3 separate regions of the Homo sapiens genome follow, and all the other regions are linked to region 1. Evidence: fine-mapped expression QTL. A gene starts in region 1. Each other region holds a variant in brackets. All regions are shown on one strand. Distances are between the middles of the regions. Region 1 holds the start of BMF (Bcl2 modifying factor). Region 2 overlaps LOC105370787 (a long non-coding RNA gene). Region 3 overlaps SRP14-DT (SRP14 divergent transcript).

Region 1 (10,097 bases):
TCTGTTGGATTTCTTCATTCCTTGGCAGGATAAAGCTAACTTCTTTTCCACGGGCTGCACACTGGGTTGAGGAGAGGGGAGCTGAGGATACTGCCCTGAGGGCCTGGCTCATAGTTTTTCCAGTAAATTTGTCTCCAAAGACTTAGTGAGTGACTCATGTGCCAAGCCTGGAGCAGAGCAGTCGGAGGGTATCAAGGAGTAGATGGCATCACCCTTGTCTTCTTGGAGGATCATCTCGCTGGTGAGAAGAAACTCAGTCAGATAAGCTGGGTGCAGTGGCTTGCACCTGTAATCCCAGCTACTCAAGAGGCTGAGGTGGGAGGATCGCTTGAGGTCAGGAGTTTGAAATTAGCCTGGGCAACACAGGCGGACCCCCATCTCTATTAAATAATTTTTTAAAAAGAAAAAAAAAAGAAACTAAGATAAGACCAGGCATCCTAAATGGCAAAGCCAATGTAGACAGGACATTTATCGGGAATCCCCCACTGTAGCTTTCTTCCCACTTCCTAATACAGAACTACTTGTACTTTTTAAACGTGTGAATATACATTCATTTACTCATTCAACAAATATTTACCGAGTAGTCCCCCCAAATGAAACTGAACATATGCTGTTGTCATACTTCATGGGATCTTGGACTTCACATCTTATCTTCCAAGCTTTCCCAGAGGGTAGCATGCCAGCTTTAGTCCTTAGTTTCTGTATTTCCCTTTACATCCAGGTCTCTGAATTCCCAGATGCTTTCTCTTGAGTAGAGTACCTGCTTTTTCTATTTGAATCCCTCTGAATCAGCAATTGGCAAGAAGTGAGCTCATTGACTAGGCAATCAAATTTCTTAACTTGCCCAGTTAGTAGAAGCCAATCTGTCTGTTCTGGCGCACACACACACACACACGTGCGCGCACCCCCGCCATACGTGTGTGTGCACCCGCACACACGCATACACACACACCCACGCACACGCGTGCACACACGCCCACAAACACCTACCAGCGCACACACACGTGCACACACATGCACGCACACCTACCCACGCACACACACGCGCACACACACGCATACACACATGCACACACATTCGTGCGCACAAACACACACTCTCTACAACTCAGAAGAGAGGAACTATCCTTTGCAGACAGACGGATAACAGATAAAGTCCCTTTGATAGGGCAAGTCCGGCAAGGGAAGGACACCCACGTCTTGCAGATCCCTGGTCTTTCTTACATATATGAGCTCTTCTGGAAGTAGTTAAGGGGGTCAGGCACCATGTGCTCCCCCAGCAAGACCCCAACCTTACCCATAAATCAGTTTCCCATCTAACCCCTCCCTGGGGGTTGAGTTACAAACCTCAGTAACCCCAGGGCAGCCTGCCTGGTAATTCCTATTATTCAGCTGTCAGCTGGTTTTTTAAAAACCGCCCTTTCCAGTGATCCAGTTACTGGAGTTTTAGAGCCATTTCTTGTCTCAGAGAGAAATCCTATAGCCAGGTGAGACAATGGAGAGGGCTCCTGCCCGCTTTCTACAGGAGCTGGGTTTTCTCTCTGGTTGAGAGCAGCCTCCCCTTAACTCTGTATCCCTCCAAGATTGTCAGGGAAGGCCCTCCTCCCTATCAGCCTCCGTGCTGATGCCTTTCTCTGGGGACCCTTCTCCCAGAGCCAGCATCAGTTAGCAGAGGAGAAAACAAATTGAGACAAGGTGCAGGAAGAGAATGAGAGAAAGGAAATTCTCCAAAATAGAGGTTGCTGTGACTGCACTGTGTATTTGCTCCGAGCCCAGTCAAAAGCTCAGGGTTCATCTGTTCCCAGGGTGCTGCTATTGGTCAGGGGGCTCAGAGCCCAGATCTGCAGCACAGCAGGTCCTGATACTGCTGAGTCCATGCAGTGCTGAAAGGGGGAAAAGGGCATAGAGGGAGGAGTCTGCTTTGACAGTGATGAGAGGTGGGGGTGAGGCTCCTGACCTCCCTGACCCCTTTATCCCTGACAGTCCTTCTCTGGTCCCTCTAGCTCAGAAGGCTGGGCCCCTTGCTGCTTGACCTTAGAGACTGAGAGCGCAGGAGGCAAAGCCACAGGTGTCTTTCAGAACCAGCCTGAGGGAGCAGGCTGTGAAGACCTGGGAGAGAGGTCTTAAAATAAATATCAATAGTGATGTGACCCTCCCCATATCTTGCAAACTGCCAGACCCCCTGAGATACTCCCTCCTGTTCCTCAGCCCAGTTCTGTCACAATGACGATTTTCTGAAACCTTTATAGGGCCACAGACCACTTTATGAAACTGTTGTAAGCTATGGATCCACCCCACTCACAAAAATGTTTGTGTGTACCCACAAACACAGTTTAGCCAGTTTCAGGGGTTCATAAACCCTAAAGCTCAGGACTCTGATGAGCCTGATGAGTACATAGATCCCATATCAATATCCCATTCTTGGCTGGGTGCGGTGGCTCATGCCTATAATCACAGCACTTTAGGAGGCCGAGGTGGGAGGAGTGCTCGAGGCCAGGAGTTCAAGACCAGCCTGGGCAACATAGTGAGACCCTGTCTGTACAAAAATAAAAAATTTAAAAAGTAGCTGGCTGTGGTGGTGCACACCTGCAGTCCCAGCTACTTGGGAGGCCGAGGTGGGAGGATCACTTGAGCCTGGGAGATTGAGGCTGCAATAAGCTGTGTTTGCACCACTGCACTGCAGCCTGGGAAACAGAGCAAGACCTTGTCTCAAAACAAACAAAAAGAACCCATTCTCTCAGCTTCTTTGCCTTGTGGACCCAATTTTACCATGCAGGGCTGTGATGAAGCACACAGAGCTTTAGCATCTCAGGTGGGTCAGGAGAGCTACGATGGCCCCAGCCCTCAGGGCCTGTGCTGTCCCAGAGGGCAGATTCAGAGCTGCTGTGGCCTTGAGTTTCACTCTTGAACCGAAGGAATGCTCAGGGGCACCACTGGCCAGCCTGAGACACTGGTCTGATAGGAAAGCAAATGAGAAGAGAAGGATGGAAGGAAGGAGCGGAAGGGAGTCGGTGCATTGGAAATCACGGAGGGCTGCCGGTGCCCTTCACAGAGGCTAGGTTTGGTTTCTGTATCTCCCTACATGTAGCAGGAGTGCAAGGTCACTCTGACCAGCTCAGACATGCACTTTTGGCCAAGCCTCTGGGTAAAATAATATACCTCCTTTTGGCTTAGTGCCTTTTGCTGGAAATCTATCAATTTCGGGGGACTGTGCTACTGGCTAACCTTGACTCCCCACTCTTTCCCTTTTCCCTCTTTGTCCTTTGGAGACAGTATTTTTCTATTCTAGCAACCACAGCCCTCAATATGGCTGGTTCATTCTGTTTCAGGTGACTTCTGAGGGAGCAAAGGAAAGAATGATGGGAAAAAGGTACAAGGAGACTTCAGGCTCTATTGGGCTGAAGGTCCCAGCTCCACTGAACTTAAATCTAAGTTTACAACCCAGAGAGCAGCTCGGTGGTCAGAGCACTGCTGAGCCCTACTGCCCCTGGTGGGTCAGGGTTGTTGCAGGACTGGCTCCCTCTCACTGCTCTCTGGACTCATCATTTTATCTTTCCTAAAACTCAGGCTTGGTCAAGTCACTCATCTCCAATAAAATCTTTGCTGCCTCCCCTTTATAAAATACAGATTCTTCAGTCTGGCATTCCAGGGACACCTCTGTAGTCTGACCTGAACCCACCTGCCCATGCCTACCGTTCGTAAATCTCAGTGTGCACCCAATGATCCAGTCACCAAGCCTCCCTCTGCTCCCTGCACAGGTAAGCTCTCCAGCTCAGCACTTCAGTCTGCTACCCTTAGGCCTGGGCTATTCTTTTTTATTTTATTTTATTTTTATTTTTTTGAGACGGAGTCTCATTGTCGCCCAGGCTGGAGTGCGGTGGCGCTATCTCCGCCCACTGCAACCTTCACCTCCTAGGTTCAAGCAATTCTCCTACCTCAGCCTCCCAAGTAGCTGGGATTACAGGCATGCGCCACCACGCCCGCCTGATTTTTGTATTTTTAGTAGAGACAGGGTTTCCCGTGTTGGCCAGGCTGGTCTCCAACCACTGAGCTCAAGTGAACCACCCGCCTCGGCCTCCCAAAGTGTTGGGATTACAGGCGTGAGACATGTGCATCTGGTTTTCCTTATTGAAAAATATTTCCCATTCAATTTAAAAGCTGTCTCCCTGAGGCCTTCTCCAGCCTTTGTATTCTGAATTTTTCTGCATTCCTCAATAGTCATTATCCTTGGAATGAATACAATTCCAATAACTTTTCACTATTTTCAGGGCTACCTCTCCTAGTAGACTGTAAGCTCCTTGAGGGCAGACGCCAGGTTTCTGGCACTCAGCCCAATATCTGGCACAGAGTAGGTGCTCGGTAAATGCCTGTGAAGTAGCCCATAGACTCCCTTACGCGGTCTGCAGGACATGCTGCTCTCCTGGCAGCACCAGCACAGTCTCTAAATGCTGCCATATGCGAGATATGTGTCAACCGCTCAAGCAGCCCCGGCCTTCTTGAGCGCTCCGCTTCTCAGCCAGGTGCTTATTTTGCCAGTGCCCACGCCCAGTCAAGAAGAGGACCTAAGGGCTCCCCTGGATGTGTTTGTTTCAAACACACCTTCAGCTTTGGAGCTGCAGTTTTCTTCCGACCTGCTCGGCAGGCGGGAGGGAGCTTTCCCCTGAGGCTGGGATCCCATAGGGACCCGCACCCTGCACCCTGCACCCACTGGACGCACCAGCCTCATAAAAAAACTCCCCGCCTCCTTCCCCCCTCCCTTTGTGGACGCGCAGCAATTATTCTGCCCATTGCCGTGAAAAAGAAGACAAAAGTTACTTTGGCGCCCCCTCTCCCACACCTAATACAGAGGATTCAGGGACTCTCTGGCGCTTCCAGAGCCTGTGTTAGGGACAGAATCCGCACTGGCGACGGCGCTCCGACTGCGCTTCTGGCGACGGTCGGAATTTTGCTCGGCCCCTTGCAATGTTTCCATGGGAAGGTTCGTACATTCGTGACCGTCCCTGGCAGCGGCCCAGCCCGGGACTTGGCGCTTCACTCGCCATTGGTCAGTCCTCGGCGTGACGCGCAGGGGGGCGGGGCCTCATCAGCTGTTTGCGGGATGCCCCGAGCAGGCGTATTTTGGAAACAATACCGCACCGTGCGGAGTGGCCTCCTCCCGCCCCGGCCTGTGCCCGCCGCCGCCGCCGCCCCTGCCTGCGCCTCCCGCCTCCTGCCGCAGCCCGGTGAGCGCCCGGGTGGCCGCCGGGGGCCGGGCGGAGTTGGATCGCAGCTCCTTGGGGAAGTGGGGAGCGGAGTCGCGCTGCGCACGGGGGCCCGGGAAGGGTTTGGGCTGCGGACGTCTGGGGTGACCATGAAGAACTGGGGCGCTGGGGTGAGGGAACGGGGTGCAGAACCCACAGTTGGGTGCGCTGCTCCAAGAGGGAACTTGGGGGTAGCATTTGGGACTCGAAGGAGTTGGGTCCAGGTAGGCAGGGGAACCTGGGGTGCACTGCTGAGCAGACCTGGGCGCCCGAGAACGGCCCAGCCTCTGGGTCTGACTTTGGGATAGGACAGGAGCTGTGGGGCATCCTGCCTCTCTGCGGAGTCTGAAGGCTCCTCTCCTTAACAGCTGGGCTTTTTCCCTCCTTCCCAATCGAGTCTGGGCGTCCAGCCCCCGAGTGCTCGTCACGCTGGACCCTGGCGCGGAGCCCTGGCATCACGACTCGGAGGCCGAGACTCTCTCCTGGAGTCACCCAGGTCTGGGGTGTGTGTGTGTGTGTGTGTGTGTGTGTGTGTTCCTAGTCACTGTCGAGGATCTGGGTGTCTGACTACTGCCTTCTCCTAAGAGGAGGAGGAGTCTAAGTTCAGCATCCCTCTTCCAGCCCTTAGGGGTTGGGATGGCTGCAGCGGGGCTTGAGTTCCTTTGCTAGGAATAAAGCATTCCCTGGCCCTGTTCTCAGGAAGTGCCCTCCTCCTCCCACCGCTCTGGACATCACCTCTTAAGCTCAGGAGAAAAATTTCACCCTCTCTTAGTTTACCCTTGACCTTGGCCAGCACCCCTCCAGAGGCGCCCACCTACAGGCAAGCCACCTACAGTTTGTGGAGCGTGAGAGGGGTCCCTGGGGCTTGCAGAGCCACACCTTCTGGCTGCACCTCCCCCACTGTCCAGTCCAGGCAAAGGTTGAACTTTGGGGCTTTGCTGGGAGGGGGAGGGGAAGGTGATAGGCTTCAAAGGAAAAACCAAGACAATGACTCGTGCTGGTGATTGGCTTTGAGGGCCCCTTCTTAGGTCAAGATTGCTAGCCTGAGAAGAGGAGGTTGGAGAGCTGGAGGGGAGCCCCTGCCAGGTGACTGGCGGGACAGCACTTGGTCCTTTCATCAGGAAATTTTGTTTCCTGTTGTTAATAAGCTGGAGTGCACCACCTCACCCCCCTCCCCATACACACACACACACACACACACACACACACACACACACACACTTGGGAAACACGGTCCAAAGAACACCACGTGGCTGCTTGCCATCCTAGCAGGCATCTCCTCATTCTCCAGGGAAGAGGGCACAGACAGGACCATAGACAGCTCAGGGACAGGGATGGGATGGGACGAAGGCAGGGCCCAAGCAAGCAGCTCACAGCTTGTGTTTGGCAAAGGCAGCATTCTGAATTGAACTGAGATTCTTTTAGCTACTTCACCAATCCATAGACCATTTGGCTTGTTCTTCAAAGGCAAGAGACTAGGGGACAGAACCCCCAGGAATCTCTAATTGAGTCTGACAAGAATGAAATTCATCTCTTTTTATCCTTAGCTGTTCAGGTGGTTGCTGCTTCTGGCTGCTGCAGGGGCCCTAAGCAGTTCCTGGTATGTGTAGGGAGCTGGGTTGGAAGCTTAAGATGCTGAGTAGCTCCAAGCTCAGACTTTCAAGAGCCATCAGGTGGAGCAAGAGGAACTTCTTTATCACCAAGAAACTCATATCAATAACTTCAGCAGTATAGGCAGTGAGTGAGGTCACAGGGAGAGGGCTGAATTTCACTTCCTTCTGTAAGACCAGTTGTACCAGTCTCAGGTTCAGAGCTGGCAGGAGCGGGAGGCTGTGGAATCAGGGATTTGAAGTCGTGGAGACTAGTGAGGAGACTTAGTTGGGAGAGGCTGGACCTACCCTCTAGGCCAAACTTTGGTGGGCAGACAGCTCAACTCTGCTCAAAGAGAGCCGAGACGGCAGCTGCAATGACTAGCTTGGGTCTTTATCCCCTCTCCCAGGACACATTCTTACCACACTGCAGAGCCTGTTTGTTGTGTTGTGCAAGCAAGGGGTGGAGATTAGAGTAGATGGGCAGCAGGGCGGGGCTTAGAGGTTTGGAGGGAACCTGGCTGTCCTAGGATTGCTGGCTTTTGTTTTTGCTGCTGAGCCTGGAGCTCAGCTCAGACTGAGATAAGAATTTCCTTGGGACAATGACTCTGTATGTGTGTGTGTGTGTGTGTGTGTGTGTGTGTGTGTTGTGAGCACTGTATGTATAGCCAGTCACAGCACCCTTGACAGCAACTTACAGAGGCTAGTCTTGTTTATATTTTCCCAGGTACCCTGCATGCATATAGCTGCTGATTCTACTCCTGCTATTGCTCACAACCCTCAGAGTCAAACTTTGTGACCGGCCTAGGTCAGAAAACGTGATCAAGAAAAAGGGTGGTTCCAGGCGGGCCCAGGGAAGAGGTGTGGAGAGCCCCTGAACATTCAGGCAGTCCACATTTGGGGAGTGAATGTCACCCTTAGCAGTGCTTTATTACCAGGGTTGTATGTCATCAGTATGTGGTCCGGCCAGCTCAAATAAGAAGGGGGAGTATGGTAGGAAGAAGGGAAGGGGAGTCCTTCCAGGTATGGCCCTGGTGGGGCAGCAGCCCAGATGCCTGCGTTGCCCCCTCACAGGAGAGATGGAGCCATCTCAGTGTGTGGAGGAGCTGGAGGATGATGTGTTCCAACCAGAGGATGGGGAGCCGGTGACCCAACCCGGGAGCTTGCTCTCTGCTGACCTGTTTGCCCAGAGCCTACTGGACTGCCCCCTCAGCCGACTTCAGCTCTTCCCTCTCACCCACTGCTGTGGCCCTGGCCTTCGACCCACCAGCCAGGAAGACAAAGCTACCCAGACTCTCAGCCCAGCCTCCCCCAGCCAAGGTGTCATGCTGCCTTGTGGGGTGACTGAGGAACCCCAGCGACTCTTTTATGGTGAGTGCTCTCAGCCTCAAGACTCCTCCCATAGAGACTGGGGGAAAAGAGGGGACTTTCCCTCCCCAAACCTGCCCTTTGCTGTTTCCTTCCCCCAAAGTGATCAGCGGGGCTGTTGATTCCTTGACTTCCACCTGCTGCCTCTCGGCTTGTTATTGCTCCTCACCTGTGCCTCAGACCCCCCAAAGGGCAAATTGTCCCCTCCTGGAGGGATCCTTGGGTCCATGGTATCTCCTTTTACATCTTGTGCCCCTTGAGTGGCCTGGCCTTTAGTGTCCTAGCAGTGACTTGCCTACTATAAAGTGGCTCCTGTTGCCCTGGAGAAGTCTGGGGGATCTGTGACTGGCTGTTGACAATGAAGGGAAAAACCCAGCCGGTTCTGGGAGGGAGGGTTCCCAAAGGCAGAAGGTGGCCCCCAGTTGCCACATGGGACTTTCTGTGTGTGAAAGGGGAACTGGAGAAAGAGGTTGGGCCTGCCTGGGCCCAATGCCAGGAGAGGGGATGCTTCCAAGGCTAAGACAAGACCCCTTCATTTGTGGGCTTAAATAGTTTGTTTTATGAGAAATATGCCCTCCTCTGGCAAAAGGGCAGGGTTAGACAGTCTGTTTTCTTCTATTAGCACTGCAGCTTATGGAGGGAGGGTAAAGGCTAGGAGCGTGGCTTACTGTGTCTGACGAGCTGATTGAGGAGACACTGCAGTTACTCCCAGAGGGAACTGCCCCTTAGGGCAGTTCTGGCAAAGCAGTTCTGGCGGGAGTCTGAGAAGTTGGATAAGGCGGGCAGGCGGGGAAGAGGGAAAGGAGCGAGGAGCCCGGCGGACTGGCGCCCCTAGCGGTGGTTCTAACGCGTGCACTGGGTAAGTGTGGAGCGCTGGTCTAGAGGTCTTGCCTGGGGCTGTCTCCGGAGAGCAACTTGGCAGCTCTGTGCGTCTCAGTTTTCTCTCCCTCTTTTTGTGCTGCTGCCCAGGAGCTTCGGGAGACCAGCCTTACTCTACTGCACTAAAAAAGTGAAGACACTTTTTGATTTTTTCTTGCTCTGCCTCTTACTTTGCTCAACCCAGAAACTGGAGAGCTACCTCCAGTGCTTTTCCAGAGAAGAGCTTCAACCTGCTACTACGTGAATAACCAACTGTGGTTAAGGGTAGCTTGATAAATAAGGACGGAAGGCTGGCATGTTCGCCTGCACACGTTACCACCTGCCCTTTGTCATGGCACTGTCAGTGAATGGAGAAGCGAAGAGAAGGCTGGGGCCATTCTTTCTGTTCTGCAACTTTTATGCACTTGGGCAGCAGGCTGTCCAAGCTTGGCAGAGTGCTCCAATAGAGGCAGGCTGGCTCCTATCCTTTCTCATATGAGGATTTACCCTCAGCCTCCAATCTTGGCCAGGTCAGGCAGGCGTAGGGAGGTTGGAGCAGTTGTGGAGAATGCTGAGATGTGGATCCTCTATCTTTGCAGGCAATGCTGGCTATCGGCTTCCTCTCCCTGCCAGTTTCCCAGCAGTCTTGCCCATTGGGGAGCAGCCCCCCGAAGGGCAGTGGCAACATCAAGCAGAGGTACAGATTGCCCGAAAGCTTCAGTGCATTGCAGACCAGTTCCACCGGCTTCATGTGCAGCAAGTAGGCACGGGGGTTTAGGGGAGGAGGGTTGAGTCTGCTGGGGCTTGGGGGCCAGGGCCTGCCTCTCTCCTCTTGTCAGCAACTCTGTCTCTGCCAGACCTCAAGGATATTGTCCCAGAGTTTTGGTTATGGCGGTTCCCATGGGCAGGAGGGGCCTAACTGGCTAAGCATCTTGCCCTCATCTCTGAGCTCCACATTGGTTAACTGCCCAGTCTCAATTCATGTTCCATAAGAGCCCTCTCGGGAGAGGCTACAGTCTGGGAATAGGATGGCTTTCTGCAG
Region 2 (10,376 bases), 36 kb after region 1:
CAGAGTGAGACCCTGTCTCAAAAAACAAAAAAACCAAAAAAAAAAAAAAAAAAAAAAAAACAACAAAAAAAAGCATGCACATAAGTGGACTCACGCAGTTCAAACCCTTGTTCAAGGGTCAACTGTATTATCATTTGAAACTTTTTTTGTTTTTTTTTTGAGACAGGTCTCACTCTGTTGCCCAGGCTGCAATGGCACAATCATAGCTCACGGCAGCTTCGACCTCTTGGGTTCAAGCCGTCTTCCCTCCTCAGGGGAGGACGTCTAGCTTATTGAGCTAAACAGAACCTGGATCCTAAATCACCACGTTTCCATCTAGTGCTGGGAATACAGCTGTGAGCCAACATGGCCAGCCTGAAACATTTTTATTTTGCTAATTTTACGAGTGAAAAGGGACTTTCTTTTTCCTTCTTTCTCCTTCCTTCCTTCTTTCCTTCCTTCCTTCCTTCCTTCCTTCCTTCCTTCCTTCCTTCCTTCCCTCCATCCCTCCCTCCCTCCCTCCCTCCCTCTTTCTCTTTCTTTTTTTTTGACACAAGGTATCACTCTGTCGCCCAGGCTGGAGCATAGTGGCACGATCATGGCTCACTGCAGCCTTGACCTCCTGAGCTCCTGGGCTCAAACAGCCCGCCCCCTTCCGCCACCCCTCCACCGCCAAGTATCTGGGACTACAGGCGTGCACCAACACGCTTGCTAATTTTATTTTATTTTTTTTTTGAGATGGAGTCTTGCTCTTTCTCCCAGGCTGGAGTGCAGCGGCGCGATCTCGGCTCACTGCAAGCTCCGCCTCCCGGGTTCACGCCATTCTCCTGCCTCAGCCTCCCGAGCACAGTAGCTGGGACTACAGGCGCCAGCCACTATGTCTGGCTAATTTTTTTTTTTTTTTTTTTTTTTTTTGTATTTTTAGTAGAGACGGGCTTTCACCGTGTGTTAGCCAGGATGGTCTCTATCTCCTGACCTCGTGATCCGCTCGCCTCGGCCTCCCAAAGTGCTGGGATTACAGGCGTGAGCCACTGTGCCCTGCGCTAATTTTTTATTTTTTATTTTTTATTTTGTAGAGACCAGCTATGTTGCTCAAACTGGTCTAGAACTCCTGGGCTCAAGCGATCCTCCCACCTCTACCTCCCCATTCGCTGGGATTACAGCCATGAGCTACAATGTCCACCCAGAATGAGACATTTCATTGTTTAACTTTCACTTTCTTATTTTCTAAATTAGTAAGAAATATTTAAATACTTAATTGCCATTGTTTCTTCTGCGAGTTGTCTCTTCCTTAGTATTTGGCTGTTTTTAACTTTTGGAATTAGTATTTTATTGTCTACGAGAATTCTTTATAAACTGCTATTTGTCTTACAATTTCACTTCGAGTCACAAATTTTTTTCAATGCAGCCAAATCAAGCCTTCCTTTGTGACTTCTGTTGCATTTATGCTTATATAACTTTTCATATAAAAATGTTCAAGAAGGCTGGACGCAGTGGAATGCACTTGTGGTCCCAGCTACTTGAGAAGCTTAGTCAGGAGGATCACCTGAGCCCAGGAGTTTAAGGCTGTAGCACACCATGATCATGCCTGTGAATAGCCACTGCACTCTGGTCTGGGCAGCATGGCAAGACCCTGTCTTGACTATATATATATATATATATTTTTTTTTTCAAGTCTTTACCTATACATTCTTCTCGTTTCTTTCTTTTTAAATTGCTTCCTTTCAAAAATAATAATTATTTAGCCTAACTAGCACGTGTGAGGTAAGGAGCTACCTTAAGTTCTTCTTCCCCAACAGGTAGCCGGCTCCACGCACTGACCGCAGCTCTGAGGCTGACACTTCCCTGAAGACCCAGAGTGTGGATCGTCAGTCAGGACTTCCATCTTGCTCCCGCAGCCCTTCTGCATGAGTGAAGTCAAGTGAGCGTGAGGCCGTTCACCACTCTCCTGGTCTTTTCCATTTCTCACTTGGTGCTCCCCTCAGTAGCAGCACATGCCTCTAAGCCCCTGTGTATTCATTCTGCCAAGAAAGTCCCAGTGCTGTAGTGCCACGCGATTGGCCGAGATGGCTAAGATACCCCAACTCACTCAATTCCCTCCTTCTCCTATCACTAGACTGCAGGGGAACCATTTTCATTCCAATGGTGTTATTTTCCTGCCCCGTGTACCTCTTTCCCTTTCAGCTTTTACCCAGGATCTTGCCAGTCTTTCTTACTGGAAATTCCCGTCCTCAACCCCCTCCCCTTTGGGAGGTAGGAAGTCATTTTTGCTGACTCATTTGTCCTCTGCCCTTCTGCTGCCCCACGTTGCTTCCCCCTTTCTCCAGAGCCACTGGAGTCTTCTCCACAAGGTTTACTTTGCGGCCTTTATGGAAACCAGCCCCTCTACTCTTTTGGGATTTGGAGTTTCAGAGCGAGTTCCTGTTGGCTCCGGGCCCACTGTTCACCTGGGCTTCTGGCTTGCTTACGGTCCTACCTATTTATCAGAGGTGACAGCCTGCTGGCAGTCCTCAGAGCCCTCGCTTGCTCTCGGCACCTCCCCTGCCTGGGCTCCCACTTTGGTGGCATTTGAGGAGCCCTTCAGCCCCCACTGCACTGTGGGAGCCCCTTTCTGGGCTGGCCAAGGCCGGAGCCCACTCCCTCAGCTTGCAGGGAGGTGTGGAGGGAGAGGCACGAGTGGGAACCGGGGCTGCGTGCGGCCTTGTGGGCCAGCTGGAGTTCCAGGTGGGCGTGGGCTTGGTGGGCCCCGCACTCGGAGCAGCCAGCCAGCCCTGCTGGCCCCGGGCAATGGGGGACTTAGCACCCAGGCCAGCGGCTGCGGAGGGTGTACTCGGTCCCCCAGCAGTGCCGGCCCACCGGTGCTGTGCTCGATTTCTCGCTGGGCCTTAGCTGCCTTCCCGCGGGGCAGGGCTCGGGACCTGCAGCCCGCCATGCCTGAGCCTCCCACCCCCTCCGTAGGCTCCTGTGCGGCCCGAGCCTCCCCGACGAATGCCGCCCCCTTCTCCACGGCGCCCAGTCCCATCGACCACCCAAGGGCTGAGGAATGCGAGCGCACGGCGCAGGACTGGTAGGCAGCTCCACCTGCAGCCCCATTGCGGGATCCACTAGGTGAAACCAGCTGGGCTCCTGAGTCTGGTGGGGACGTGGAGAGTCTTTATATCTAGCTCAGGGATTGTAAACACACCAATCAGCACCCTGTGTTTAGCTCAAGGTTTGTGAGTGCACCAATCGACACTCTGTATCTAGCTGCTCTGGTGGGGCCTTGGAGAACCTGTGTGTGGAAACTCTGTACCTAACTAATCTAATGGGGACGTGGAGAACCTTTGTATCTAGCTCAGGGATTGTAAACGCACCAATCAGCGCCCTGACGAAACAGGCCACTCGGCTCTACCAATCAGCAGGATGTGGGTGGGGCCAGATAAGAGAATAAAAGCAGGCTGCCCAAGCCAGCATTGGCAACCCGCTCGGGTCCCCTTCCAGGCTGATAGAAGCTGTGTTCTTTCGGTCTTTGCAATAAATCTTGCTATTGCTCACTCTTTGGGTCCACGCTGCGTCTATGAGCTATAAGCTATAACACTCACCGCGAAGATCTGCAGCTTCACTCCTGAGACCACGAGCCCACCGGGAGGAACAAACAACTCCAGACGCGCTGCCTTAAGAGGTATAACACTCACCGCGAAGGTCTGCAGCTTCACTCCTAAGCCAGCGAGACCACAAACCCACCAGAAGGAAAAAACTCGGAACACGTGTGAACATCAGAAGGGACAGACTTCAGACGCGCTACCTTAAGAGCTGTAACACTCACCGCGAGGGTCCGCGGCTTCATTCTTGAAGTCAGTGAAACTAAGAACCCACCAATTCCGGACACATTTAGACTTGTTTCTCAGGTCGGGGGTGGCGCACGGTTGATTTCTGGCTGCCTTTAGTGCTGATTGCGAAAGCGAAGGCTTGAGACCAGGCGTGGTGGCTCACACCTGTAATCCCAAAACACTGAGAGGCCAAGGTGGGAGGATTGCTTGAATCCAGGAGCTGGAGCCCAGCCTAGGCAACATCATGAGGCCCCGTTGCTGGAAAAAAAAAAAAAAAAAAAAAAAAGGGAAGAGTTGGAGCCCTGGGCTTGTCCCTGGGCCTGGTGGGCTCTCTAGTGGGTGGAAACAGCAGGCAAGTCTTCTTTATTCTCAAGTCCTGCGGATCTTTTTTTTTTTTTTTGAGACGGAGTCTCGCTCTGTCCCCCAGGTTGGAGTGCAGTGGCGCCATCTTGGCTCACTGGAAGCTCCGCCTCCCAGGTTCACGCTATTCTCCTGCCTCAGCCTCCCGTGTAGCTGGGATTACAGGCACCCGCCACCACGCCCGGCTAATTTTTTGTATTTTTAGTAGAGACGGGGTTTCACCGTGTTAGCCAAGATGGTCTCGATCTCCTGACAGTGATCTGCCCGCCTCGGCCTCCCAAAGTGCTGGGATTACAGGCGTGGGCCACCGCGCCCAGCCTATCACTTTTAATAGAGAAGGAAAGAGGGGCGGAGGAGCGGATGGAGGAGTGATGTTAATGGGACATGCGCACTTCCCTAGCACTGCACTAGGGTGTCAGGGTACAGTTGATGCCTTGGGAGAACTGGAAACTCCTGATTTGGGAGAGTGATGGTATTGGCTGGGAGTGATTGTCATACATTCTGAACTCTGATGCCCGTTCTGAGACCCCTGGGATGCCAGGCTCTTCCCAGGGAATAGCGTTGACAGCTAAGCTGCTTCAACAGAAAGGCCACAGAGGCGACACATTCCCGTTTGTCCCCGGCCACTAGAAAGTGTTTCCAGGAGAAGCGGGTTATGAACAACCCATCACCTTCTTTCAGATGGGGTATTGTGGGAGCCCTAATGAGAGGTGCTAATGTTCTTCCAGCCCCAGGAGCTCTCTTTATCCCTGTCTCCCTCCGGGATCCTCCGAACAGTCTGCCTCCACAGGTGGCATTGGTAGGGAGGCCCCAAGCCAGGTGGTTAGCCGACTTCCGACCCACCTTGTGCCTCGGATCCCCCACCGCTCCGCTACGGCTTGATTTCAGGATAAGCCTCAGGAATGGACCTTTTGGGTGAGGGG[G/A]AGAGGAAAGAGACCGATTTCCTCGAGAGAGGTGGGGCAGGGGAGCAGCTGAGAGAAAGCTGCGCCGTCTGGAAAGGAAGCCAGAAAGGAAGACAGAGTCTCTTTGAGCTTTTCCCACCAAGCTCACAGGAAAATTGCAAAAACATCATTGGACTGGATCAGGATGCGAAGGGAGCAGCCAGGAAGGCGCGGCCTCTTTGAAGGCTCCCGCTCCGCGCGAGGCGTGGCTCCCGGAGGGGTACACCAGCTGGAGTGAGGAACAGGGCTCAACGCCCGCCCGCCCGACAGCCACAAGGGAACGGGTTGCGTTTTGTTTTGTTCCCAGTGGTCCCCAGGGCCGAAGGGGAATATAAGGAGATGCTGTTGAGCTGGCTAGAGGGGACGGGAGGCTCGAAGCGAGGCACGCAGTCAGGCACTCCTGACGAGAAGAAGCAAGACTTACACAAGGGCAAAGGCCTCCTACTGGAGAGATGAGACTAGTGAGGCCTGGGGACAGCTCCGAGGGCTGGGGAAGGTCAGTGTTGGCTTCAGGCGGGGGTATAACTAGACCTGGCTACTTATCTTGTGGGGCTCAGTGCAAAGTGAAAATACGGGCCCCTTATTAAATTATGAAGCGTTTGCTGGGTGTGGTGGCACGTGCCTGTAATCCCAGCATTTTGGGAGGCTGAGGTAGGAGGATCATTTAAGCCCAGGAGTTCAAGACCAGCCTGGGCAACATAGTGAGAGCCTGTCTCTACAAAAAATAAAAAATTAGGTCAGGCACAGTGGCACATGCTTGTAGTCCCAGCTACTCAGGAGGCCGAGGTGGGAGGATCACTTGATCCCAGGAAGCAGAGGTTGCAGTGAGCCAAAATTGCATCACTGCACTCCAGCCTGGGTGACAGAACAAGACCCTGTCTCAAAAAAATAAAATAAAAAATTAGTGGGCGTGGTGGTGCATGCCTGTGAGTTCCAGCTGCTAGGGAGGCTGAGGTGGGAGGATAGCCTGAACCCAGGAGGTGGAGGCTGCAGTGAGCCAAGAACATGCCACAGCACTCCAGCCTGGGTGACAGAGCAAGACCCTGTCTCAAAAAAGACATATATATATTGCGGCAACAGAGTTTTAAACCAAATGCAAGGCCCTTCTAAGCATTGGGCCCTGTGCTACTGACTACCCAGGTCAAGGTGTGAGGTTACCCAGTATGAAGGGTCTCCAACCTACTTCATTAAAGGCCACCAAAAGGAAGAGTCCAGATGAAGGCCAGGGGAGAAAAAAAAATCAGACTCCTTGAGGAGTCTTTTGGTTTTAAAAAATATTGGGGAAAAATAGAGTCTCCATTAACAGCATGTTTTTAACTTTTAAACAGACCTTCACATCTCTGGAACCATATAACAAAGGTGACAATTTTATGAGCCAAGTTATGCATGGCACATTTTATGTGCCTAAACGACCTAAGTGATTTTTGTAGGTCCTTCAAGGACAATAAAAAAGTATTGTAGAGGAAAAGATTTGTATATATTTATATTTCGCCACCAAATGTCAATATTTCTTTTATAAAAATTCATCCCTCCTACCATGCCTCTTATCTGTTCAAAATGTTTGGACATTTCACTTCCCTAGTCTAGGCCAGTTTTTAATTTTAATTTTTTTAACTTTTTAAATTTTTGAGACAGGGTCTCGCTCTGTTGCCCAGGCTGGAGTGCAGCGGCGCAATCTCGGCTCATTGCAACCTTTGCCTCCCAGGCTCAAGCGACCATCCCACCTCAGCCTCTCGAGTAGCTGGGTCTACAGGCATGCACCACCATTAGCCCAGCTAATTTTTTAAATTTTTGTAAATACAGGGGTCTCCTTATATTGTCCAGGCTGGTCTTGAACTCCTGAGCTCAAGTGATCCTCCAGCCTCGGCCTCCCAAAATGTTGGGATTACAGGAGTGAGCCACCATGCCTGGCTCCAGGCCAGTTTTGTTTGTCACCTGACACTGTGTCCTCTTTCAGTTTGGAGACCACAACTCCGCAGGGTTGTTGGGTTAGTGTCCTTTGGTGGGCCACACATTTCCCCAGCCCCCCAAGCCCCAACCCACCCCACTCAGTTAGCCAGTTGGTATTATACATGTATTAGAACTTTCTCTGAGAACAGAGCTCACAAAAAAGTAAAGATCTGAGAGCTTCTGGAGGGGGACAAGGGAAACTCAGGGCAGGTGCAGAAGCTGGTGCCGGGGTAAGGGCCCCAGCTGCCATTCCTCTGCTCTCCCGTGTTTCCAGTGCCCCCTCACCCCTGTGTCAGCTTCCTCCCCGGGGAAGTGGGGTTGGGTGGGGATTACCACTGCCTACTGGGATGGGCGCCGGCTTCATCTGCAGGGATTATCAGGCCTGGTGGAGCTGGCTCCAGCAGCCACAGCCCTCAGGGCCTGACCTCCCCTGCTCTCCACCTGTGACCTCAGAGAGCAGGGGCTGTCACTCTGGGTATGTGGCCTGGTGTTTTCTCTCCTCTGTGGGGTTTTTTGGACCTCTCAGTATCTCTCTCAGAGAGATACTGACCATCCCCTAAAATTTGGAGACTGCCCAGTGGTGTGATTTGTCTTCCAGCAGTCAAGCCAAAGAAACCTTTGCTCAGCAAGACTGGGTCCATGGAGCTCCTTAGCGTTGGAGGAGCCATCAGCTCCAGATGGAGCCGTTACCTTGCCCTGAGGACGTTATGCCACAGCCCATCGCCCAGGGGAGAGGGACCCAGAGAGCCTGGGAGGAGCAGTAAACCCAAAAAGCAAGAAATGCCCTTTCCCCCAGGCAAGCCCCGCTTGCAAACCCTGACTCGAACAACTTCTTAGCAGGGACGCAGTGAGCCCTCAGGTGGTCCCTGCCACCCGGCCAATCCCCCTGCAGGGTGGAGCTGCCGAGCCAGAGCAGAGCCCAGGCCCACAAAGGTTTCTGAGAAACAGGGGAAGAAAGACCCTGTCCTCCATCTGGACACCAGAAATGAGGCTTGCTTCACCTGTTCTTCCTGCTGACCAACACCAGCCTGGCTCAGCAGCCTCCCTCTGTCCTGGAGTGGTGGGAGTGCCGGGGGCAGGGGCGTCACAGCTGCATCCCCCAGCCCAACCCTCAGCCTCCCCCTACCCCACCCCCGCTCTGCACCCAGTCTGTGGGGCCACAGAGCAGCCTCAGAGGCAGCCTGGGACAGGAAGAGGCCTGACCAGGGACAATCCCCTGGGGAGAACCAAAAGGGCCTAGGGACTGAGTGCCTGACAAGCGGCCCTGCCACACTGGCAGTGAAGGCGGTGGCAGGGAGCACAGCCGCGGTGGCAGCCGGCGCCCAGGGCAGGCCTCGTGCCCTTGTGGCCAGGGTGACTGAATCTGCCAGCTGTGGGGCCCATTCGTGCCAAGTCTGCCCTGGCTCCGTCTGGTCGTAATCGATGCTGGCGCCAGGCCAGGCCCCCTGCCAGCTCCGGTCACACTCGGCTAACGCGAGAGGCCCAGCCCATTAACTCCTTGCCAAGGCCCATTGTCTGGGTCCTTGCCCGGTGGTTTATTTACTCCAGGGCTGGCCGGGCCAGGGCTGGGAGGCGACAGCGGGGTGGACTGCGGGTGGGGCAGTGGGGTGGGGGGTGGGGAGGGTTGGGGAGGCTTAGGCCTGAGGAGGGGGCTGAGAGCAGGAGTGGGGCAGGCAGGACGGTGGTTTCCAGAGCCCAAGGGCAGGGCATGCTGTGAGGGTTTTTTGTGTTTTGTGTTTTTTTTTTGCTACATCAAAGATTCCTTGTATAGGCAGATGTACCTCCAGAGGCCCACCCAGTACCTTAGGGGTGAGAGAGGGCACTGGAGACACAAGACCTTAACTCCCCAGACAGCCGCCTTCAAAGCCCCTTAAATAATTTTTTTACATGACCTACCCTCTTGTATTTAAGTTGGCATTTGAAATTTTCCATCAGAAATTTAAATAGTTCCAAAGGATATCCTTTTTAGCATTTTATGAATATTTTTTCACTTTCTATATGCCTTTATTATATTTTATAGTCAAAAAATTCAAAGAAAAATGAATATTGATATTTTCAAATACAAATTGTATCTTTCTTTTAAATGTCCAATGGAATCTAAATGCCAGAGCAATTCTGTGTCCAACATTATCCATTAAAAAAAATAGGGGAACAAACGCTAATTAAACAGCTTAGAAGTTTACATTATTTCGTTCTCTCCAAGAACTTGTATTTCCATTTCACTCCTGTTACAGATTTTATGCTAATGTAAGGGTTTTTTTTTGTTTGTTTGTTTGTTTTTTTTTTGAGGCAGGGTTTTGCTCTGTTGCCCAGGCTGGAGTGCAGTGGTGTGATCCTGATTCACTGCAGCCTCAATCTCCTGGGCTCAGGTGATTCCCCCACCTCGGCCTTCTGAGTAGCTGGAACTACAGGCCTGCACCACCATGCCCTGCTAATTTTTGTATTTTTTGTAGAGACACAGTTTCACCATATTGCCCAGGCTGGTCTCCAATTCCTAGGCTCAAATGATCCGCCCACCTCGGCCTCCCAAAGTGTTGAGATTATAGGTGTGAGCCACAGCACCCAGCCTGTATTTATTTTTTATGCTTGAAAATCTTTTATTGGCTAGGCATGGTGGTTCATGACTGTAATCCCAGTACTTTGGGGAGGCTGAGGCAGGAGGATGGCTTGAGCCCAGGAGGTCAAGGCTGCAGTGAGCCATGATTGCACCACTGCACTCTAGCCTGACTAACAAAGGGAGAAGTTGTCTCAAAAAAAAAAAAAAAAAAAAGAAAGAAAGAAAAATCTTTGATTGATTATTGTATTAAATAAAATTTAAAGATTAAAACTTCTGGCCGGGACTGGTGGCTCACACCTGTAATCCCAACACTTTGGGAAGCCGAGGGGCAGATCACGAGGTCAAGAGGTCAAGACCATCCTGGCCAACATGGTGAAACCCTGTCTCTACTAAAAATACAAAAATTAGCTAGGCGTGATGGCACACACCTGTAGTCCCAGCTACTTGGGAGGCTGAGGCAGGAGAATCGCTTGAACCCGGGAGGTGGAGGTTGCAGAGAGCTGAAATTGCGCCTCTGCACTCCAGCCTGGGTAACAGAGCAAGACTCCTTCTCAAAAAAAAAAAAAAAAAAAAAAATTCCTCTGTTCCCAAAGCTGAGCATTAATTTTTTGGTTATGAGTTTAGTGTTAGAATAGTTTATATCCAATTGATCAGAGCAATGTAAATAATTACGAAATTTGATAAACAACTATTAAACATAAAAGGTAAATTTTTATTGGAAATGCATCTCTTAATAAAATAGTTGGGGTTGGGACAGGTTTTCTTCCCAATTAGTGTATG
Region 3 (10,376 bases), 60 kb after region 1:
GCAGGGCTCTGCAAGGGAAGGTAGCAAGTTGGTTAGGGGCAGAGGAGGGGCCGATGATGACAGAATGTCTGCAGAGCTCACAAATGTTCTATGAAGCACACAGTGCCGGCTGTTTGGAACGAAGCAGAAAGGGGTAAGGCAAAGTGCTCAGGATCAAACTGGGGAGATAGGAATGAGTCACAGTAAGTTGTCTTGACGTCCCCGCGGGGCAGTAGGGGACGGTTTCAAAGGGCTTTCAGAATTCAGGGCAGGGTCTTTTCCCACTTGGGTAATCAGGGAAGCCTTCTAGAAGGAGGTGGTATTTGAACTGTGGGGAATGTCAGGAGGCTGCACGAGGGAACCTGGACCTGAGTTGTGGGGACGTTGGTGCCAAAGCAGAAACTGAAGGCTGCCTCCTCCTGGACGAACTACCCAGGGGAAAATTAAACTTACTGGAAGAGTGAAAGATTCCCCCAAGACACTCAAGTGAGGGAGTGGTGTCTACTGCTTCTCCTCTGCCTGCACTTCCTTAGGAGGGCAGGGCTGATTTCTCCTCCCCGTACCCATCAACTTCTGACCTTATACATCTGCCCCACCCTGCCTTTCCATCCTCAGCTCCCACTTCCTTTCCCTAGGAACTGCCCATTACAATCTCTGCTATGACTTTTTAAAAAGCCCATTCGGTCTTTGTCCCCCTTTCCTGGCTCAGAGCTTTAAAAACCTTTGGGATCTCCTGAGTGACAGGAACGCCTTTTGTCATTTGTAATGAGCATTTCCATCATACCTCAGGTTATGATAAGAAGGCAACTCAAGGTGGGCCCTTAATTTTAAGGGAGAGACTGGCCATGCCAGAAAGACCAAGCATGTGATCAGAGTGTGGAAATTTCATCCCTACTCCCATCCCTACTGCACCGCCAACCTCTGGGGCGAGAGGGAAGGACTAGAGATTGAGTTCGTCATGTGGTTAATGATTTCATCAATGGTGCCTGTGGAGTAAAGCCCCATATAAAACTCGACACTGAAACTGCGAGGAGCTTCCTGGTTGGTGAACACACCAATGTGCTGGGAGAGGGACATACCACATTCCACAAGGAGAGGGCATGGAAGCTCTGCACACACACCGCCCCCACCCAACACCTTGCCCTACATAGCTCTTCCCTTTGGCTGTTCTGAGTCTATATGATAATAAAACTAATTGTAGGTATAGCATGCTCAGTGAGTTCTGTGAGCCATTCTAGCCAACTACTGAACCCTAAGTTTGGGTGGTGAGAACTCAAATGTGTAGTCAAGTCAGACAGAAGTGCCAGTAGCCTGTGGACCCTGCGTGCGCCTGAGTTCTGAAGTAAGGGTAGTCTTGGGGACTTTGACATTTAACTTGTGGAGTCTGACACTGTAAAAAAACCAAACTCGGTTTTTCCTACTATGCTCTCTCAACACGTTCCTGACACCACATGGGGGGGCAGGGGTCTCTCCCCGCCACCAAGCAAGCTATCATTTCCGCAGCAGACACTAGTGGGGCATCCTCCAGTTCAACTCTGACTCTACCTGCCGACAGTGTCAGATCACACAGGTTGAGAACTCAGTCCCCTCTCCTCACTTCTGATGCCAAGTGCAAGCCCTGGGTTGTTTCGCCGCTGCTCTGTCTGACCAGCTAATTGGGGTTCACTAAAGCAGCTCACAGAACTCAGGGACAACTTACTTACATGTGTTAGCTTATTATAAGGATAGTCCACAAGATATACATGAAAAGATGCATAGGGTGAGCTATGGAGGAGGGGTGGAGCTTCTTTAACCTCCATGGGTGCTCCACCCTCCAGGAATCCCCACGTGTTCAGCTATCAAGAAATCCTCTGAACCCTGCCCTTTTGGGTTTTTATGGACGCTTCATTACATAAGCCTGATTGACTAAACCATTGGCCACTGGTGATCAACTTAAACTTCAGCCCCTTTTCCCTCCCTGGAGGTTGAAGGGTGGGGCTGAAAGTCCCAATCCTCTAACCCTGTCTTGATCTTTCTGGCGGCCAGCTCCCATCTTGAAGCTACCTAGGTGCTTAGCGTGCAAAAAGACACTTAAAACTTAGGAGATTCCAAGGATTTTAGGAGTTGTATGTCAGGAATGAAGACCTAATTAATACCTGTTTCACAATATCACAGGCACTAACTGCAGGTAGTCAGTGTCAGAATTGACACTGAATCCAATTGCAGGATGCCCCGTTGGTGTCAGAGAATAGTTGTCAGAACATACAAAGAGGACTCTTCCCTAAGATTCACATCACACTCCTTCTCCTGCCTGAAATGGCACTCTGCTCCCCGCAGTAACTAGTCCACTAGTCTGTTTTTCTAAATTCTTTCTTCCCTTCAAAGTCCACCTCCTTCACAGCTTGGTACTAGTGATGCTGTCCTGTAGCCCTTTCTTGCATGTATAACTCCGCACCTCCCACTAGGTAGCATCTGCTTTTGAAGAGAGAGACCTGGGGAAGGCTTGCCCTGGACAAAGGAGTTGCCCGCTAAATGCTCATCGGTGGATAGAAGGGGAAGGCTGCATTGAAGTGAGGAAGGCTGCTGGCCTGGCGAGCATTCCTCAAGAAGAAGCCTCGGCTTCAGGCCTCTCCCCCTCCCTCCTTCCTCTGTTGGCTGTGAGAAGCAGTGTCTTGGGATGGGCCGGGTTTCGGGGCGCTGGATCTGCAGTTCCAGCATCATTGCCCTGACAGTAAATACAAAATTTTGGCATCTTCTCTGCTGCGATTGCCAGGGCTCACCCAGGCCAACACCCGCCCCCTCCCCACACACCACACTCCACACACACACCACACACCCCCACACTCCACACACACATCCCCACCCTCCCCACACACCACACACTCCCCACTCCAGACACACACACCACACCCCCCATACCACACACGCACCATCACCCCACACCCCCTACACACATCCACACACACTACCTCCTTACACACACACACCCACACCGCACCACACACCCCCACACACCACACCCCCCACACACCACATACACCACTGCCCATGCATACCACACCCCCTCACACGCGCACACACACCATGCACACACAAACCCCCCCCACACTACACACTCCTCACACACACACAACCCCCCACACATGCCACATGACACCTCCCCACACACCACACACAACCACACAGACGCACACACCACACCCCACACCACACACACCACCGCCCCCGCACACCACAATCCCCCACACACCACACACTCCTCACACACACCACACCCCCCACACACACCACTCCCCCACACACCACACACCCTCACAACTTCCTCACACTCCCCCTACACACACACACACACACACACACACACACACACACACACAAGGGCTAGACCATGCCTAGCCTATGTCTGCCTCATTTTGGGCCGCAGTTGAAAACCACTAAACATGGCCATAGTCTGGCCTTGTTACTCCTCTCTCCCTTGCTGTTTGGCAAAGGGCCAGTAGAGAACAGTGTGTTCCCCCTTGCACACTTTCTCACCCACCTTCCACCTCACACACTCCACCTTTCCCTGAAGCTGCCTCCAAAAGCCTAGGTTTATGTCTCCTTCAACAGCTCTGACAGAGTCTGGTTGACCCAAGCCATGTGGGTAATTGGTGGGGGCAGACAGCCATGCTACCCATCCCCTCAACACCCTGGAAGATGAGCAGGCAGCAGACAGGTGGGGGCTACACTGGGCTCCTCCTCCCAGGCAGGCCCATGTGAGAGGTTTCACAAAGTGACCTAGAGGCACTTAGGAAGCCCAGGGCCTTCTTCCACATCACTGCCCACGGGGAACTGCTCTGAGTTGCTAGGCCTAGATCTGGCTTCAGAAAAAGCATGGCTCCTGCGTGATCTTTGGGCCTCCACCTTCACTCCTTCTTCCAGCCCCCACCTCCTCTGAAGGCCTCTCTCAGCATATGCTGGGTCTTAGAAGGAGAGAATATTAGCCATTTATACCCTCAGGGAAATTTAAATGGCCATGTTAAGTTTTAGCTGTAACTGGAATGAAAGGCCTGGTCCCCAGTTACAGGAATTGTAAGGAGCAGCTTCAGTGGAAAAGAGGGTTGGGAGGATGGGATGTGTCTTTCCTGGTATTACTGTGACCCACTCCCCATGTTCTGCTTGTCAAGCAATCTGGAAGAATTCTTGCTCTTCCCCACCAAGTGTTGGGCAATCTTCTAGAATACTACCTCTTAAGATATTCTGAGTCCAAATCTCCCAAGATTTTCTCCCAAATCTCTTTATGGTGAGGATCTGGGGAAAACAAAATCCCATCCTATTTCAAGTTCTGAATAGAATACAATTCCATTTTATCTTGCCCTCAATTGGATTCTCATCCTAATTTCTTTCCCAGCTATACTAGCCCCCAAACAGTCATTACAGCAATCCCAAAGTTACCTGACAGCATTGGAGTCTCACATTTAAAACTGGAAGGGACTTTACAGCTCAATCCCAACTCCCCAAGTTACAGAGGAAGAAACTCAAGTCCGGCAAAAAGTGACTTGTCCAAGGTCCCACGCCAATGAGTGGCAGAATTCAGATTAGAACTCAGCACTTCGGCTGCCACTCCAGTGCTGTTTCTGTAAGGCCACAACCACTTCACATCCCCACTCAATTTAGAGTTTGAGGCCTGGAGTTTAGGTACTATTTTTGGAGACATTGTTGGAAGTTCCAGGATGAGGTATTTATGAAGATTCAGTTCTCATTTCCCTCTCCAAAGCTCTTGGCTGGGTAACATGGCTCATGTCTGTAATCTCAGCACTTTGGGAGGCTGAGACAGGAGGGTCACTTGAGACCAGGAGTTTGAGACCAGCCTGGGCAACATGGTGAGACCCCAGTCTCTATAAAATAATAATAATAATAATAATAATATAAAGCTCTTGTTTTGTGTTATATTGCCCTAGTCAACTGCAACCTGGTCTGGGGTAGGAGGAGGCAGGGGGCCAGGGGGTGAGGAGGGCTGCTGAGCTGTGTGATGTCTCTGCTGGGCTCCCAGCCTGGCTGATGGGGGTTTATCCACCCCGACCTGGGAGCAGGTGTGGGCCCTCTGTCCCCAGAACTTCTTGAAGAACAGTTTGTTCTGCAGGGTGCAGCCAGGGTAGGGGGAGAGTTGCAGATACCAGTACAGCCCTGGAGCCCGTTGCAGCTGCTTCCTGTTGTCAGAGGGCTCCTCCACCAAGGGGCTGAGTTCCTTGACACCTCCACGCCCCTGCCTAGTTCTCCGTGTGGTATCCTGCCTCAGTAGGCCAGCAACTTCCCACGGATACCAAGGAAGGCTGTGTTCAAGTAGCAAGAGCTCAGAGTGAGGAAGTGCCCTGTGGCCAGGCACATTTCCAGCCTCGTGGCTGACCACCCCTGGTGCAAACAGGGTCCTGTCCTCACGTATGCAGGTTGATTTCTGCCTTGTCTTCCTTTCCCTGTCTGAAAGATCTTTCCCATCCTGTCTGCAGAGTCAAGTTCTCCCCATCATTCTCGGTTCCATCTCTTCCCCGAAGCTTTGTCTGCAGTGACTCCCTCCCCACCCCCGCTTCACTGGCCATACTGGACTGTCCAGCATGAGAGTGTGGGCCCTCATTTCACACTGCCTTGTCTTGTGGTTTGACATTTCACCTAGGTTTGTTTTGTCTCCTCTTCAAGACTTGAAGACAGGATGATTTGGGTCCTTAACCACTGCCTCCTACTTCAAACGAGATCCCTTACAGAGCTGAGCTCAGAGCCGACCCTGTGTGTAAGGGCATAATAAATCCTGGCTGAATGTCCCGTCTCAGTGTCTCTGTCTTGGTTCCTGCCTGAATTTCAGTCAGCTGAGCCACAGTTCACCCCAGACCCTGTAGCATCTTGGGAGGAGACATTTGGGCTCCTCTGCCTGGTAGTCACGTTGCCTCACTGCAGGAAGTGACCCAGGCCTTGCCGTCTCCCAGCTTGTGGGCCTTCTTGCCTCCAGGTTCCCCTCTGACTAATCATGAGAGTGCTATGGGGCTGACTGGAAGCGACCACTCCTGTCCCAGAAGGGACTTCCCCAGCCTGAATGCTTGCAGGTGGACGGCAAGGGAAGGGGGATAGTGCTGGTAATATGCAAGGTGGTGCCCTCGTCCAGTTCCAGGGACACAGCTCATAGAACACTCCCAAAAGGGGCTGTTCAGCCTGTCTCCATTCTTGCAGCTCTCTTCACCCCAAGCCTCAGGCCGGGCCTGGCTCGTTGTCCCTGGGGGGTCTGAAAGGGGCTGGAGTGGGGGTGGAGTGAGCAGCAACCCGGGACTCTCAGCTCAGCGCTTTTCCCCCCATTGTGAAATGGCCTTGGATAAGGG[C/A]CAAGCAGGAAGCTGCCTCCTATAGCTCCGTGGCCTGGCGCCTGGGGTGTGAGGACGGCCCCAGGCCCTTCCCTTCCCAAGGGAGGGCTGAAGCTGACACACGGAGTCCACCTGCATGGAGACACTGAGCTGCCCTTGGCTAAGTCATGAGGGGCCTATGCCCTCCCTCCTGCTCTCTGTGCCAGCTAGTTTGTGGCAGGCAGAGGGGTGTGTGGAAAGTGCATGGGCCTGGGGCTCAGGGCTCGGGGCTTCCAGTCTCACCTTTGGCATTACCAAGCTTTGTGATCTTGGTCAAGTCATTTTCCCTCTTTGGACCTCACTCAGTTTCTATTCACTTGTGAATAACTAGCAGGTAAAGGGTTGGACTAAAAAGGTCTTGGAGGCCTCTTCCAGCTCAATATTGTGACTCACTGAAGTCAATGATTCATTGATGTTATTACTGGGACTTGGCTCTGATCAGATGGGAGTTTCTTCATTGTGTCTGTCTAGGATTCCCTGTGTAAATCTGCATCTGTGGGTCTGTCACAGAGGTGGAGTGGGCTTCCCCGAACAATCAAGGATGAATGATGACACAGAGGCCAAGAGATGAACAGCATCTGTCGCTTTGGGGAGTCGAGACACCTGTTGGGTAATTTGTGCAGAACTCTGGCTATATAATTTCCTGTCCTTGACTTTCAGACAGGAAACTTTAAATTGGGGACCCCTAATCATCCTGAATAAGGGAGCCCCTCCCCCACCCACTAAACCCATGAAAGTGTGGGGAGGAGGAGGGCAGGAATAGGTGCTCATGCCCCAGACTTCCAGCCTGGCTGGGAATAACTACGCTTGCAATAACTATGCTTGCCTTTCCTGGCCTCAGTTTCCCCTCTTACAATATGGGGTATGCTGGCCCCCTTCTTGAGGTTCAGCAAGGAAGGAAATCCTAGATGAGAAGGGGAGAACCTCTTAAAGTTCACACACATTTCTTGAGTGCCACCACCTGATTCTGTACAAGGATGGCCTTCCAGGCATGTGGGGCCAGGGGCTGCCCATGGAGTGTAGCCTAGAGGGTACTGGCAATTCCTTTGTATCTCCCCAAAGCCCCTATACCAGAAATCCCACCATTAGAGTCTGTTCTTTGTTTAACATCACCTAAGTTTCCTCCACAAATGGAGGGCGTGTGACATACTAACCATTTGTCCTGAACATGTTCGTGTGATTTAGCTACCAGATGGGTTGCCTCCACACAGCTAGCTGAGCTTAGTGAGAGACTGGGATTTTGATGGGGAGGGAGGGAGGGGTGTTTTGCACGACCGAATATTTCTACTCAGGGTACTGCTTGAGAAGGAGAGGAAAAGAACAATGAAACCTAGCTTTTCTGCCATGCTTTCTCACGTATAAGCTTTTATATTCACATTGTCACACTGAACTCACCACAGCAGTGTGAGGAAGATCTTCCCATTTTACAGCTGAGGAAATGGAGGCTCATAGAGATTAAGATGACTTTCCTTCAGAGATACAGCCAAGAAATGCCAAGTTGGACCTGGAATCCAAAGACAGGATTAAGGAGACAGGATTCTGCATGGGAGTGGGAGGGGGACAGGGGCTTGGGATAGGAACCCACACCCAGAGGGAGGGAAAGATGAGGAGTGGAGAGAGAGTCCCAGTTTGTTCCACTCTGCCTAGAGCTGGTCTCTTTTCTGCCTTCCCTCCCTTCTTGTCACCTCTTTGGACAGCTGAAAGACAGCTGAAAGCTCAGCACTCCTGAGCTGCCCGCAGGCTACACTCATTTGCAAGTGCTTCTTCGCACAGAGGTGGCAGGCTCCTCAGCTAGAACAACGCTCACCTCACAGGACTATTGGGGGCTCAAAAGTGGATACATGTAAGCACCTAGAAATGAACCTGGCACTTAGTAACTTCTCAATAAATATAAGCAAGCTATTATCTGAGAAAAAAATAGTCTCTTCTCTAGTGGAGAAGTCAGTCAGCTTCTTGCACCTAGAACAGTGCCAAACACTGCTTGTTTAGCCTTGTTCAGTGAATGGATGAATGATAATCTTTCTGTAACACGGAAAGTTCTAGCCTCCACAGAAGTAATTTTGAAAAATAATGACCACGATCTTGGATATTCTTAGGGTTGATCTAAGGTAAACGACAGGGCAAGATCTGGGAGTGGCTGAGGCGGTCGCCCATGGCTGCGCTCGTCTGGTGAGGCCAGGGCGTCCCCTACTGGCCCAAGACGAGTCACAGGCAGGTCGAGGCCACTCCTCATCTCTGCGATGGCGCGTGGAGGGAGGGCGTGGTGGCGTTGCTGCGAGCGAGGGGAAGGCCAGTGTTAATCACTGACACTTGTGGGCTCCGGAAACTTCCCTAGGGCCCCCAGAAGGGGCTGGGGGGAGAAAAGCAGCAGTTCTAAGAATTTTGGAAGTAGAAGTGACATTAGCAATCTAGCCTAAGTCCTGAACATAACAGTGAAAATACTTTAAAAAATACATCAACTGGGTGTTTACTATGAGCCCTTTACGTGGATTATGTCCTTGAAAGCCGACAACAACCCTCTGAGGCAGGTTCCCTGTGGAGGATAGGGCGCAAGCAAGTACCTCGTGCAGGGCCTCACAGCAAGTTGGGGAGCAGGGTGAGCCTGGGGTCTCTGACTCACAGTCCAGGGCACCTGTGCTGTCTCTCTAGGACACTGGGGCTTGGGATTTAAATCCAGGACTTCATCCTGGGGTGGGGATGGAGAGAGTTCCTGGAGCCCTGAGTTGGCTGAGCAGATACAATGAACACTTGTTGACCAACTGACTGCAGAAAAGAATAAAGGAATTGGGAACTGCCAGTGTTGGAGTGGATTCAGTCCAGGGAGTGTGTTGACGTGTGGCTTCAGGGTGTTTACTCTCTCCGGGCACCCAGGCTTCTAGGACACACTCTCATCTCCCTCCGGCCACTCCTCTGGCCTTCTCTAGGATGGCTCCACCAGAGCTAACCACCTCCCGCTGACGTGGGAGGTCTCCCAGCCTTAGGTTCTAAAATTTGTCATCCCAAAGCCAGACCTGCCCAGTGCCATTCCTCGATGTGTTTAGATGATACCCTCCTTCCTTCATCCAGAACTGACCCTTAAATCAGCACACTGGAGCTACGGTGAGGCAGCTCAGAGCCCAAGGTATAGTTCCCCTCAGACTGAAACTGAAAAGTTAAACTAGCCCAGAGGCCAGTCCTCCGTAAGGTGCACAGTGTCTTGTTGCAATCTGCTCCTGTAGAATGAATCCACCTTGACGAGGAGGACGTAGAACAGCCCACTCCCAACTAAGGGACTGCAGTGTAATAATGCATCCCTTAGCTCATTTACTCCTCCCCTTGACATGAGGTAGGCACTTTTATGACTTCCCCATTTTACAGATGAGGACACTGAGGCACAGAGAGACTTAAGCAATTTTGGAATATGCAAAAAAGATTAGTGGAAACAAATACATTAAAGAAAAAGATAAACTCAAAAACAACAATAACAAAAAACAAAACAAAATAAAAAATAGTGGATGTTTCCAATGAAAAATTATACATTGATTAGAACACAGCCTTCTGGATTAGCTGATTTCTAGCCTTTTATTTCCTTTGCGCTATTTTACAACTCTGTAGGTTGTAGAGACTCAATGGCAATGCAGAGGATTCTTGTCTATGGATGTACAAATGCTTCTGTTCAGTGAAGGGACAACCCTGGGTCCCTCCTGTGCAAAATCCAATTTTACTTCCATTTACAAATTCATTCCAGAATTCCTGATGTTTACTGGATTCCCCTTTGAATGGATTGTAACATACATCTGGTTTCCTTATTAATAATAGGTTAAACATAATACAAAATTTTTTTGAGACAGCATCTCACTGTTTCCCTGACTGGAGTGCAGTGGCACAATCATGGCTTATTGCAGCCTTGACTACCCCAGCTAGGAACCCCATCCAGGAACTAGCGACTGTGTTTTTAAGCATTATACTTTCCAGGCACTGCAAAGTGTAATTGCATTAGAGTAACTGCAGCTGCAAATTAATCAACCCTAACCTGAACAAGATCCTTGACCCTAATTCAAACCCTAACCAAATTCC

Evidence for each region.
Region 2: its variant is fine-mapped to the expression of BMF in whole blood (TOPMed, PIP 0.98).
Region 3: its variant is fine-mapped to the expression of BMF in whole blood (TOPMed, PIP above 0.99). The same link has a PIP of 0.9 or more in blood mononuclear cells and monocytes.

Annotation. Positions count from the first base shown.
Region 1 is chr15:40,103,898-40,113,994 of GRCh38, reverse strand. BMF (Bcl2 modifying factor) reads left to right here and starts at 5,116. Exons shown (of 5, transcript NM_001003940.2): 1 at 5,116-5,222; 2 at 5,609-5,736; 3 at 7,904-8,200; 4 at 9,655-9,815. The coding sequence starts at 7,909. RefSeq lists silencers at 5,059-5,308, 6,793-7,087, 8,903-9,095 and enhancers at 5,818-6,513, 8,084-8,133, 8,354-8,403, 9,628-10,097.
Region 2 is chr15:40,067,423-40,077,798 of GRCh38, reverse strand. It overlaps LOC105370787 (a long non-coding RNA gene), which reads left to right. Exons shown (of 3, transcript NR_188231.1): 3 at 1,779-3,512. It overlaps SRP14-DT (SRP14 divergent transcript), which reads right to left. Exons shown (of 3, transcript NR_040060.1): 3 at 10,290-10,376. Among named protein-coding and RNA genes, the nearest start is that of SRP14-DT, 33 kb to the right of the region's middle. RefSeq lists enhancers at 237-737, 7,868-7,987 and silencers at 8,118-8,177, 9,296-9,479. The variant G/A (reference allele first, on the strand shown) is at 5,072.
Region 3 is chr15:40,043,409-40,053,784 of GRCh38, reverse strand. It overlaps SRP14-DT (SRP14 divergent transcript), which reads right to left. Exons shown (of 3, transcript NR_040060.1): 2 at 7,716-7,824. Among named protein-coding and RNA genes, the nearest start is that of SRP14-DT, 9.3 kb to the right of the region's middle. RefSeq lists enhancers at 5,812-5,941, 6,282-6,411. The variant C/A (reference allele first, on the strand shown) is at 6,303.